3 linked regions of the Homo sapiens genome follow. The protein of the gene in region 1 purifies or fractionates together with the protein of each later gene. This does not show direct contact. Each region holds a gene or a part of one and is shown in the gene's direction. Other genes may lie near its edges.

Region 1 (3,702 bases):
TCAGTCATTGTGTGAAATATTATGCAGCCATTAAAATTTATATTTAGGAAAAAACAATATTAAATGTAAAGTGGGACATGAAATTTTAATCTCCTGTATGTATTCACACATCAAAAGATTACAAGGAACTCTACAATATTAACAATGTTCATCTCAGAAGTATGTTAATAAGTGATTGTTATTTTATTGTTTATACTTTCACACACTGATTTTTGCATGGTGATTATACACTACTTTGTAATCAGATTTTTTTAATGTAAATAATAATAAATGCAGGTCTTAGCCATTGTTTCTTTTCATTTCCTTGAAGCATTTCTTTGAAGGTGTTGAAGCTCGCGTGGCACAGGGCATAAGGGAGGAGGAAGTAAGTTACCAACTTGCATTTAACAAACAAGAACTTCGTAAAGTCATTAAGGAGTACCCTGGAAAGGAAGTAAAAAAAGGTCTAGATAACCTCTACAAGAAAGTTGATAAACATTTATGTGAAGAAGAGAACTTACTTCAGGTATGCTTACTTCTTTTGACCATCTGACTTAAAGATCCTTACATATATTGCTTTTCTTTAAATAATTTTCTAGAAATGCTACAGATCTAGAGCAGGAGGAGAGTTCCATTAGAGTACAGACCAGATTAATGAATTGTGAGGAAGAAAGGAATACTGTTTATATAAGCATATATGGCTATTTCTGCTTATTTCGTATTTCTGCTATATTATGGTGAGGCATTAAGTTTGTTTTTCTTTGGTTGGTTGGTTGGTTGGTTGGTTGGTTGGTTGAGTGGTTGGAATTAGAGATGGGTTCATAATCTGGCTCCAGATTAAGCTGTGTGACTTTGGGAAGTTACTTAACCTCTCTGAGCCTTAGTTTCCTTATTTGATAAGTGGAAACGATACATCTCTTGTACAGTAGCCACTGTATTGGGCAACATAGCAAGACCTTGTCTCTACTAAAAATTAAAAAAATTAGCTGGGCATGGTGGCACGTGCCTGTAGTCCCAGCTACTCGGGAAGCTGAGGCAGGAGGATCACTTGAGCCCAGGAGATTGAGGCTCCAGTGAACTATGATCCTACCACTGCACTCCAGCCTACGCAACAGAGTGAGGCCGTGTCTCAATTAAAAAAAAAAAAAAAAAGAAAGAAAGAAAGAAAAAGAAAGAAAGAGAAAGAAAGAAAATCAGCTTAGAGAGGTGGAGTAATAGGACCAAGCTCTCTTAACTAATGGGTAGTGGAGCCAGATTTAAAGTCCAAATTAGGCCATTATTCTTTATAAACCATATTGAAAGGCCCAGATATGAGTGAGAGTAATTCTGATTTCAACATCATGGAAGACTTCCTGAGGGATATTGCATTGTTTGTTTTAACCTCTGAAAGTCAGATGTACTTGAACAGGCAAAGTGGGGATGGAGGGAGTAGCATTCTAGAAAGAAATAATATGAGCTAAACGATGAAAAGTAAAAAGCATAACACTGCTTAGGGAATAGCGATTGGTCTTAAGTTGGCAGGAATTTAGGATTTATGAGATTTAGGATTTACAAGAAAAAATCTTGGAAGAATACATTCCCTCAGCTGTCAAATAGGGAAGATGATCATAATACCCACCCTCACCAGGTCATCATGAGACTTAATACTATAATATATTCATAAAGTGCTTTGTACTGTGCTGATAAAGAGTAAGCTTCAATTAATGTAATCTATTTAAGCCATTATGTCAATGTGTGTATCACATTGTGTCTTGGTAATTGTCTACATATTAGCCTCCACTGTTAGATTATAAATCACATGATTGCAGATAATGGGTCTGAGTCATTTTGCTGTCCTCCAAGGCATCAAGCAAGGTTTTGCATCAACAATTTTAGATAAAGAAAACTTTAAATGTTATAGGAAATGAAATTAAAGCATTACATTTTATGTAATCACTAGTCTTAGTTCTATACATAATTGTGCATATCCACATCTGTGTTGCATATTGGAGTATATAAGATAATAGCTAAAATGTCATGAGTGCTTACTTGTGTCAAACGCAGTTTGAAGCACTTTATGTACATTTCTTATTTAATTCTCACAGCATTATGAGGAAGGTCTTATTATTATCTTGGTTTATAGATGAGGAACTTGAGGCATAGAGCAGTGATGTCATGTACTGAAGGTTACAAATCTTGTAGGTAAAAGTGACTGGGATTCTGGTTTCAGAATGCATGTTCCTAGCTACTATACTACCCAAATTCTTAGAATATGCCTTGGCATTATTTCTGCATACTAGATTACATATTATTTCCATTCATAGCCTAATGACTTTTTTTTTTAATAATAGGTGGTGTGGCACTCCATGCAAGATGAATTTATACGCCAGTATAAGCACTTTGAAGGTTTGATAGCTCGCTGTTATCCTGGATCTGGTGTTACAATGGAATTCACTATTCAGGACATTCTGGATTATTGTTCCAGCATTGCACAGTCCCACTAAACCTTGTGAAAGAAGAAAAGATAACTGAATGAAGCATTTGAGTATAACAGACACTATACCAAAATACCAAGCAACTGTTTTGAGAACCCAGACTTAAAATTTTATGTATTATTAAATGTTAGATAAATGGGTAGTACCATACTACAAATATTTAAATGCAAAATTACCAACCTATATAGCAGTTTTATTTGCCCTATAGGTTGCATACTAACTTAAGCATTCATGTCACCATAAAATGCCTTTAGCATTTCTCAATGACTGGATGGGAAATTTTCCTTTATTGCCTAGCTGCTTGTGTTTGAGTGGTTGTCCTATGAGCAATGCATTTGGAGTTCTTCAGCTTTCACTACTTCTCTGTTGCTTGCTAATCATGTAACTACTAAAATACTGTACAAAATTGTTTTTTCACACTAACAAATGTGTATATGGAGAAGAGGGCTCATGTGATGATCATTTGTGAACTTAGATTTTTGAGGATTATGTGACTAGTAATAAATGTGAAATAAATTTTCAAAAAAGTTGACATTTGATAATATTTTTAGGTCTATCATATGCTGTCTTCTGTATTAAAGCAAGTTCTTACAAAATCCATATACAAAAATTAATTGCAAGTTTATATACCACAAAACACTTAAAAGTTTAATAATAAGTAAAGTAAGCCGGGTGCAGTGGTTCATGCCTGTAATTCCAGCACTCTAGGAGGCCAAGGAGGGAGGACTGATTGAGGCCAGGAATTTGAGACTAGTCTGGGCGACACAGTGAGACCCTGTCTCCATAGAAGAACAATTTTTTGTGGTGGCACATGCCTATAATCTAAGCCACTTGAGAAGCTGAGGCAGGAGGATTGCCCCAGCCCAAGAGTTTGAGTGAGTTGTGATTGTGCCACTGTACTCCATCCTGGGCAACATAGCAAGATATTGTCACTTGAAAAAAAAATAAGAAAAATAATAATATTGAAGATGTTTAGTATTTAGGACTAACTCTAACAAAAGATGTGCTATATCCTGAATTGTGGCCCTACTAACATTTTATGTTGATGCCCTAACCCCCCATGTGGCTGTATTGGAGATAGGGTCTTTAAGGAGACGATTAAGTTTAAATGAGGTCAGAAGAGTAGGAACCCTGATCCAATAGACTCAATGCCCTTGTAAGAAGAGGAAGAGACAGCAGAGCTCACTCTCCCTCTGCTGTGGGAGGGCACAATGAGAAGGCAGCTGTCTGCAAACCAGGAAGAGAGCCC
Region 2 (3,732 bases), on another chromosome or scaffold:
GCTTTTTGGAAAGCAATAGGCGATCTGATTTTTCACAAGCTGAACTTCTGTCTTTCTTGCTTTGCAAAGCAACCCTAGTCATCTTTGTGCTGCTTCCATGGTGTCTGCTGTCATTTTTGGCCTTTACAAATTGCTCAGGGCTCATTTGAAAAGCAAGTTACCTAAATGATGTTTTAATGATCTCGAACTCTTGCTTGAAACAGCCTTAGTAATAATCCAGTGTACAGCTTGCCTGCAAACATTTCCCAGCCCCACCATGACAAATTTTAAAGTGGTTAGACATTTTGTTTTGAGGAAGTCCAAACCACAACTTTTCCACATTCAGAAATGAAGCTATTTAATTTGCTTACGTGATGAAGGGAGTTGATTGTGTTTCACCCAATCCAGAAGAAAGGGTCCTTGTTTGTATTGGCTTTTTACTTTCAGCCCGGCTAGCTGTTACTGTCCTTATTGTTTAAAACTGGTAGTTGTATTCATTTACTTGGTGTTTGCTTTTTCTGCTTGCTGTAAAAAAACACAGTCCCACTGCCAAACATTTCTTTCAGCTTCAAACACTCCAGAGTGAAAATTCGAACCTCAGGAAACAGGCCACAACCAATGTATATCAGGTGCAAACTGGTTCTGAGTACACAGACACTTCCAACCACTCTTCCTTAAAGAGACGTCCGTCTGCCCGGGGCAGTAGGCCCATGTCCATGTACGAGACCGGATCAGGTCAGAAACCATATCTCCCAATGGGAGAAGCGAGCCGCCCCGAAGAGAGCAGGATGAGACTCCAGCCCTTCCCCGCGCACGTAAGTAACACCACTGGCGCTTCTGCTGTTCACTCTATGCAGCCTGTCTACTCTGTTCCCTCTTCTGAACCTACAGGTCCCCACAGCTCTGCTTTGCCAAATTGGACTAAGAGAGTTACCATTGTGTTTGCTGTATTAACATGTCCACAGATGCTTGCGATATTCCCACAAGCACACAGGGCCATGGGCTGATGGTTTCCTAACCAAGTTGGGGATTCTGGCTCTTGCCCGAACTGCTGCTTTTTTCTCCCCCACATCCATGATTATTTCTCAACCAGCCAGTGTTGGAACTTTTTTTGGTAAAGCTTCCTTCCTTCTCTACTTCCAAAAACAAAAATAAATCATAAAGTTCACTCTCAGAAGGAAGTGTTGCCTTCTTGGAGCTAGACAGGGATGTGCCCCTTTAAGTACTGGAGCCCTTAGAATCCAAGACGTCTTTTCAGCTCCTCCTCAAGCAGGTGGCCTTGAGTCTGTGGCCCAGGTACCCAGGCAAGGCTGGAAGGCTCCAGGCTTCCGCAGCCTCTCCATGTGTGCTCAGTGTGCCTGCTAGGTTCGCTTCTGCATCCTGCTCCTCCCACCGTGGTGGGGGAAGTGTGGCTTTGTTGTCTCAGAAAAGGAAATGTAATACTCTACATCAGTCTTAGAAGCGCTGAATTCCAGAGATTGTGTTCTGCAGCAGGGTTCTTACAATCTTATTTTGCATTGGGATACATACTGTGTTATAAGGTTTTCAAATATATTTCTTCTGGATTACTTTATTATAAAAATATGTGTTTTGCCAAGATGTTACATTTAAACTTTTTCATGGGATGCTTTTTCAGAGAGTAGTATTTGTCTTTTTGAGTGTCAAAGTTTATTATTTCTTCAGTCAAATTTTATGGGAGTTTCCAAAAAAATTCTCAAGGTAGATGCAAAGCAAGGACATGGTTTCGTGAATTAAACCCTAGTTTAATTTTGTCAATTTTCAGTGTGGTAAAATTACAATATTGTTTTACTATAATTGGGAGTCTGTTATCTCAGATTCTTTTTAAGATATTTGGGTTTAACATTCTAAGGCAATTGATTTGATACATTTGATGTAATGGGAATGCCACTGAACTAAGTTAAGAATCTTTTTTTTTTGAGATGGAGTCTCGCTCTGTCACCCAGGCTGGAGTGCAGTGGTGTGATCTCAGCTCACTGCAACCTTTACCTCCTGGGTTCAAGCAGTTCTCCTGCCTCAGCCTCCTGAGTAGCTGGGACTACAGGCACATGGTCCTGTGCCTGGCTAATTTTTTTGTTTTAGTAGAGACGGGGTTTCATCATGTTGCCCAGGCTGGTCTCAAACTCCTGAGCTCAGGCAATCCGCCCGCCTCAGCCTCCCAAAGTGCTAGGATTACAGGTGTGAGCTACCATGCCCACCCTAAGTTAAGAATCTTATTTTTGTATAGCTGAAGACAAAATTTAGGAAAAGCAACTTTGTTATTTTTCAGTGTACTTTCTTATTTTAGAAAAAATTAGAATATAAAGATATATCAGGAAGGCACTGTAATTGTACTAAAAATTAGATTGATAGTGTATAGCAACTTAGAATCATTTTTATAGTTTCTCATTTCACATCAGTCCTGATTGAAAAACAAATATGCATTTCATAGTATCCATTAAAAAATTATTGACAAGTTTGACAAATTATGTTAGGTATTTCCCTTATGGAAAAGCAGCCTTATTAAATTCAGAGTAATTTCCAGGAGGTGTTTCACCAAGGGTTTAAGCATCTCTGGGGTCCTGTCACTGGTGGCCACTGAGATTGCAGCACTCACGTCACATAATGTGTGGTGTTCCAGGATTCTTTTACTGAAGCTGGCAAGGTGGTAGGTTTTTGGTTTGTTTTGTATTTTCCCGAGTGTGTTTCTCTTTCCCATTCCAGATCGGGAGGAGTGCACTTGTGACCTCCTCTTCATCTCTGCCTTCCTTCCCCTCCACACTTTCCTGGTCGAGGGACGAAAGCGCCCGAAGGGTTAAGTACATTCTGAATGGTCTGCTCTCTGGAGGAGGGGCCGTGCTCCTGGGCGCTTTGTGCTTGGGCTCTGGCCCTCCTGTCCCTGCTAACTGCCCTTCCGTCCTGCATGAGGCAGCACTTCCTCCTGGTTTCTCACAGTGCATCAGGCTCACACTCGTCCACATGCACGCTCACCCATCGAGGGCGCCTCCCTTTCTCTAACCCCATACTGCTCATGTTCACGTCATATTTAACAAAGTTTGCAAATCACCCTACAGCATTTATTCTGAGCAAACTGTTTTTTTAAACAACGAGAAAATTAGCTGGCTGCTGGTTAGATATTATAATAGGCCAAATTTGTTCAATTTGTTCAGGGCTACAGTTGTCAGATTGAAACTGCTGTATGTGGACTCGCTGAAGTACTAAAATGTCATGCCTTTTTTTTTTTTTTTAACCTGTGACACATTTTATGTCAGCACCACAAGTGCTGACAAACCAAGGTTTACAAGTCCCTGCATCTTGAATCAGAATTGTAACACCTTGTGGCATTGGAGCTATGCAAGCAGCTGTTAACCTAAAGCTGTTCACTTGTACGGGTTGGTTAAACCTCACCTACTGGTGTATAATTTATGGTCTCAATAGCAGTGCATGATTCAGGTAAGCCTCTTTTAGAGTAGTCAGGCAGTAAGTATTAAGCACCTCCTCCATACACAGCGTTTGGGTAAGTCAATGAAAGGGTCCTAAGGACTTAGCTGGCACAGCCCCTGCTCCCAAAGGCACTGTCAATTAAAAAATACTTTCATGCATAAAGAGTGGTACATGACCACAACCTGGGAAAGCCGTGGAAAGGGCATAGGCTTTGAAATCCACGTCCCAGTTCTGGCTCCATCTCTTTTTTAATGGAAGGGTAATGTAAGGTAAGAGGAGGAAGGTGGCTGTGGGTAAGGGACCACCTTTACA
Region 3 (3,500 bases), on another chromosome or scaffold:
GTTAGGATTTCAACCCAGGATTGCCTGACTCCAGAGTCTGGTCTTAACCATTTATCATACTCTGCCACTATGCCACACTGATCATTTTATGTCCTTTTTACAGGTTTGCCAATAGGATTATCCTGCTGCCATCATGTCTTGGTTTGTTGATCTTGCTGGAAAGGCAGAAGATCTTTTAAACCGAGTTGATCAAGGGGCTGCAACAGCTCTCAGTAGGAAAGACAATGCCAGCAACATATATAGCAAAAATACTGACTATACTGAACTTCACCAGCAAAATACAGATTTGATATATCAGACTGGACCTAAATCTACGTATATTTCATCAGCAGCTGATAACATTCGAAATCAAAAAGCCACCATCTTAGCTGGCACTGCAAATGTGAAAGTAGGATCTCGGACACCAGTAGAGGCCTCTCATCCTGTTGAAAATGCATCTGTTCCTAGGCCTTCATCCCATTTTGTGCGAAGAAAAAAGTCAGAACCTGATGATGAGCTGCTGTTTGATTTTCTTAATAGTTCACAGAAGGAGCCTACCGGGAGGGTGGAAATCAGAAAGGAAAAAGGCAAGACACCTGTCTTTCAGAGCTCTCAGACATCAAGTGTCAGTTCTGTGAACCCCAGTGTAACCACCATCAAAACCATTGAAGAAAATTCTTTTGGGAGCCAAACCCACGGTAGTTAATCAGTCCTCTTATTTCTTTTAGAGTTAAGCAAATTGAATGTGTCATCATATGATCCGATGGTGTTTCTCATCTACTGTTATGGAATCTGTCTCCACTGGTGTAAGGGCAGACTCTCTGCAAATGTGTGGTGTAAACAAGGGAGACATCATTGACTACTATTAGTCAATAGACAGTTGTAGCAGGGACTTCATGTTGTCTGGAGGGCAACTTCACCCACTCAGCATCTAACAAAGTATTTCAAATTTGTTTCTCTAAGACATTTTAAGATTAAAAAAAGAAAATTTTGAAATCTGAAAGAAAACATGTCAGTTTGGATCGGGGACTATCCCAGTTGATATCTTTTTGTTACTAGGATTATAAAAATGACAGGAGGCTGTACTTCACGTATTTTCTGGGTTGTGTTTTTTGTGTGTTTTTCCCCCCACATCCTCCACAAATAAAGCTGAGAGACTGAACTTTGATCCAAGTTGAAGAGTTGAAGGCATTGACCTAGTAGTGAAGCAAGAGCTTAGAACTCTTGTTTTCAATTGTTTAATTCCCTCTGAGATTACCTCTACAAGTACACCTTCTTTCTTGTGAAATGAGATTAACGTGGTAAATGTGGCTAATTCAAGTACCTACTAACTGTTTTAAAATAGCTATAGGCTGGGCGTGGTGGCTTACACCTGTAATCCGAGCACTTTGGAACGCTGAGGCAGGCAGAGCACTCGTGCCCAGGAGTTTGAGACCAGCCTAAACAACATAGCAAAACTTTGTCTCTACAAAAAATACAAAAATTAGCCAGGCACAGTGGTGCATGCCTGTAGTCTCAGCTACTTGGGAGGCTGAGGCGGGAGAATTGATTGAGCTCAGGAGGTCGAGGTTGCAGTGAGCCGAGATTGTACCACTACACTCCAGCCTGGGCCGTAGAATGAGACGCTGTCTCCAAAGATAAAAATAGAAAAAAGGCAAAAAACTTGATAGTAGGTTCTTGCAGGGATTCTTTTGTTGTTTTGAGACAGGGTCTTGCTCTATCGCCGAGGCTTAAGTGCCGTGATGCTATCACAGCTCGCACTACCTTTGACCTCCCCAGGCTCAAGCGATCCTCCTGCCTCAGCCTCCTGAGTAGCTGGAACTATAGGTGCACACCACTGTGCCCAGCTAATTTTAAAAAATTATTTTTAATAGAAACAGTGTCTCACTGTGTTGCTCTGGCTGGTCTTGAGCTCAAGTGATCCTCCTACTTTGACCTCCCACAGCATTGGGATTATGGGCATGATCTACCGTGGCCTGGCCATAGGGATTTTTTTTTTTTTTTCTTTTTTGAGACGGAGTCTCACTCTGTCACCCAGGCTGGAGTGCAGTGGCCTGATCTTGGCTCACTGCAAGCTCCACCTCCTGGGTTCATGCCATTCTCCTGCCTCAGCCTCCCAAGTAGCTGGGACTACAGGCGCCTGCCATCACGCCTGGCTAATTTTTTTTTTTTTTTTGTATTTTTAGTAGAGACAGGGTTTCACTGTTAGCCAGGAGGCTCTTGATCTCCTGACCTTGTGATCCGCCCGCCTCGGCCTCCCAAAGTGCTGGGATTACAGGCGTGAGCCACTGTGCCTGGCCTTTTTTAATGTTTTTATTTATTTATTTATTTATTTTTTTGTGAGACGGAGTCTCGCTTTGTCGCCCAGGCTGGAGTGCAGTGACGCGATCTTAGCTCACTGCAACCTCCACCTCCTGGGTTCAAGCGATTCTCCATTTCAGCCTCCCGAGTAGCTGGGACTATAGGTGTGCACCACCACCCTTGGCTAATTTTTGTATTTTTTGGTAGAGATAGGGTTTCATCACGTTGGCCAGGCTGGTCTTGAACTCCGGACCTCAAGTCATCTGCCCACCTTGGCCTCCCAAAGTGCTGAGATTACAGGCGTGAGCCACCACACCTGGCCAGGGATTCTTTATAGAGTTGATTATTGATGGGAGATTGTCATGTTCTTGGATGTTATAGCTTCTTTCATTGTCTTGGCTGTTAGTGAATAAAATCTTTCTTGTATTTTCAAGACAAAAACTTGTATAGAAGAAGACGTTTTGGGTTGTGAAAATAGGATCAGGCAGTAGCAGTTGATTAATATGTTCACATATTCCAAAATTTCTTCTCAGCTATCTTTCAATTAATTACACAAAGAACCTACTAGGTGCAAGGATATGGAAGTGTCCAGTGGGTGAGCTAGACATGTAAACAGATAATTTACTTGTGGTCTAGTAAATGTAGCAATTAAGTATGGTCAGAGTGTTGTGGAAGTATGAAGGAGGAAGTAACTAATTGCCTAGGGTATTCAGAAAGGATTCACAGAGGGTCTGTATTTTTAGCTGGGTCTTAAAGAATGAACAGGAGTTTGCCAGGTAAAAAGTTAGAGACAGCATTCCATGCAGAGAGAACAGACTCTAAGAGGCTAGTAGAGTAGAAAACATTGTAACAAAGTTGGAAACACTGAGTGAGTTGGAGGGTGATGAAGAAAATGTAGCTAGCAAACAAAGTTGGGACCTGTTTGTGAAGGCCCTTGTGTCATACTGTTTATGCAATTAAACCCATTACTTCTATAATCATTGTTAAAGATTGATTCCTGAACAACAGGCTTTAGAATCGCTTGTGTGTTGTTAATTTAAAAATGAATTATTGAGTGCCTTCCCAGGCTTCCTGAATCGTTATTTTCTGGGGATGGAGCCAGGGCATCTGATTTTGTTGTTGTTGTTCTGTGGGTGGTTCTTAGCCAATAAAAGTTGAAAGTGGCTGCCATAGCCAGTGTGATGCTAGTAGAGATCTTTAAGTCAAGAGTTGACATAGCT

The links.
Region 2: the proteins of EXOC1 (region 1) and GIT2 purify together in Homo sapiens (affinity purification with mass spectrometry; 2 studies listed by BioGRID and IntAct, with this or other methods). This does not show direct contact.
Region 3: the proteins of EXOC1 (region 1) and GOLGA5 purify together in Homo sapiens (affinity purification with mass spectrometry; 2 studies listed by BioGRID and IntAct, with this or other methods). This does not show direct contact.

The regions. Positions count from the first base shown.
Region 1 is NC_000004.12:55,902,034-55,905,735, forward strand, and holds the end of EXOC1 (exocyst complex component 1), read left to right. Parts: intron 1-310; coding exon 311-505; intron 506-2,309; coding exon 2,310-2,462; 3' UTR 2,463-3,053; downstream 3,054-3,702.
Region 2 is NC_000012.12:109,944,318-109,948,049, reverse strand, and holds part of GIT2 (ARF GTPase-activating protein GIT2), read left to right. Parts: exon of another isoform or gene 1-545; coding exon 546-794; intron 795-2,700; coding exon 2,701-2,790; intron 2,791-3,732. UniProt on the Homo sapiens protein: GTPase-activating protein for ADP ribosylation factor family members, including ARF1.
Region 3 is NC_000014.9:92,797,305-92,800,804, forward strand, and holds part of GOLGA5 (golgin subfamily A member 5), read left to right. Parts: intron 1-103; 5' UTR 104-133; coding exon 134-677; intron 678-3,500. UniProt on the Homo sapiens protein: Involved in maintaining Golgi structure. Stimulates the formation of Golgi stacks and ribbons. Involved in intra-Golgi retrograde transport.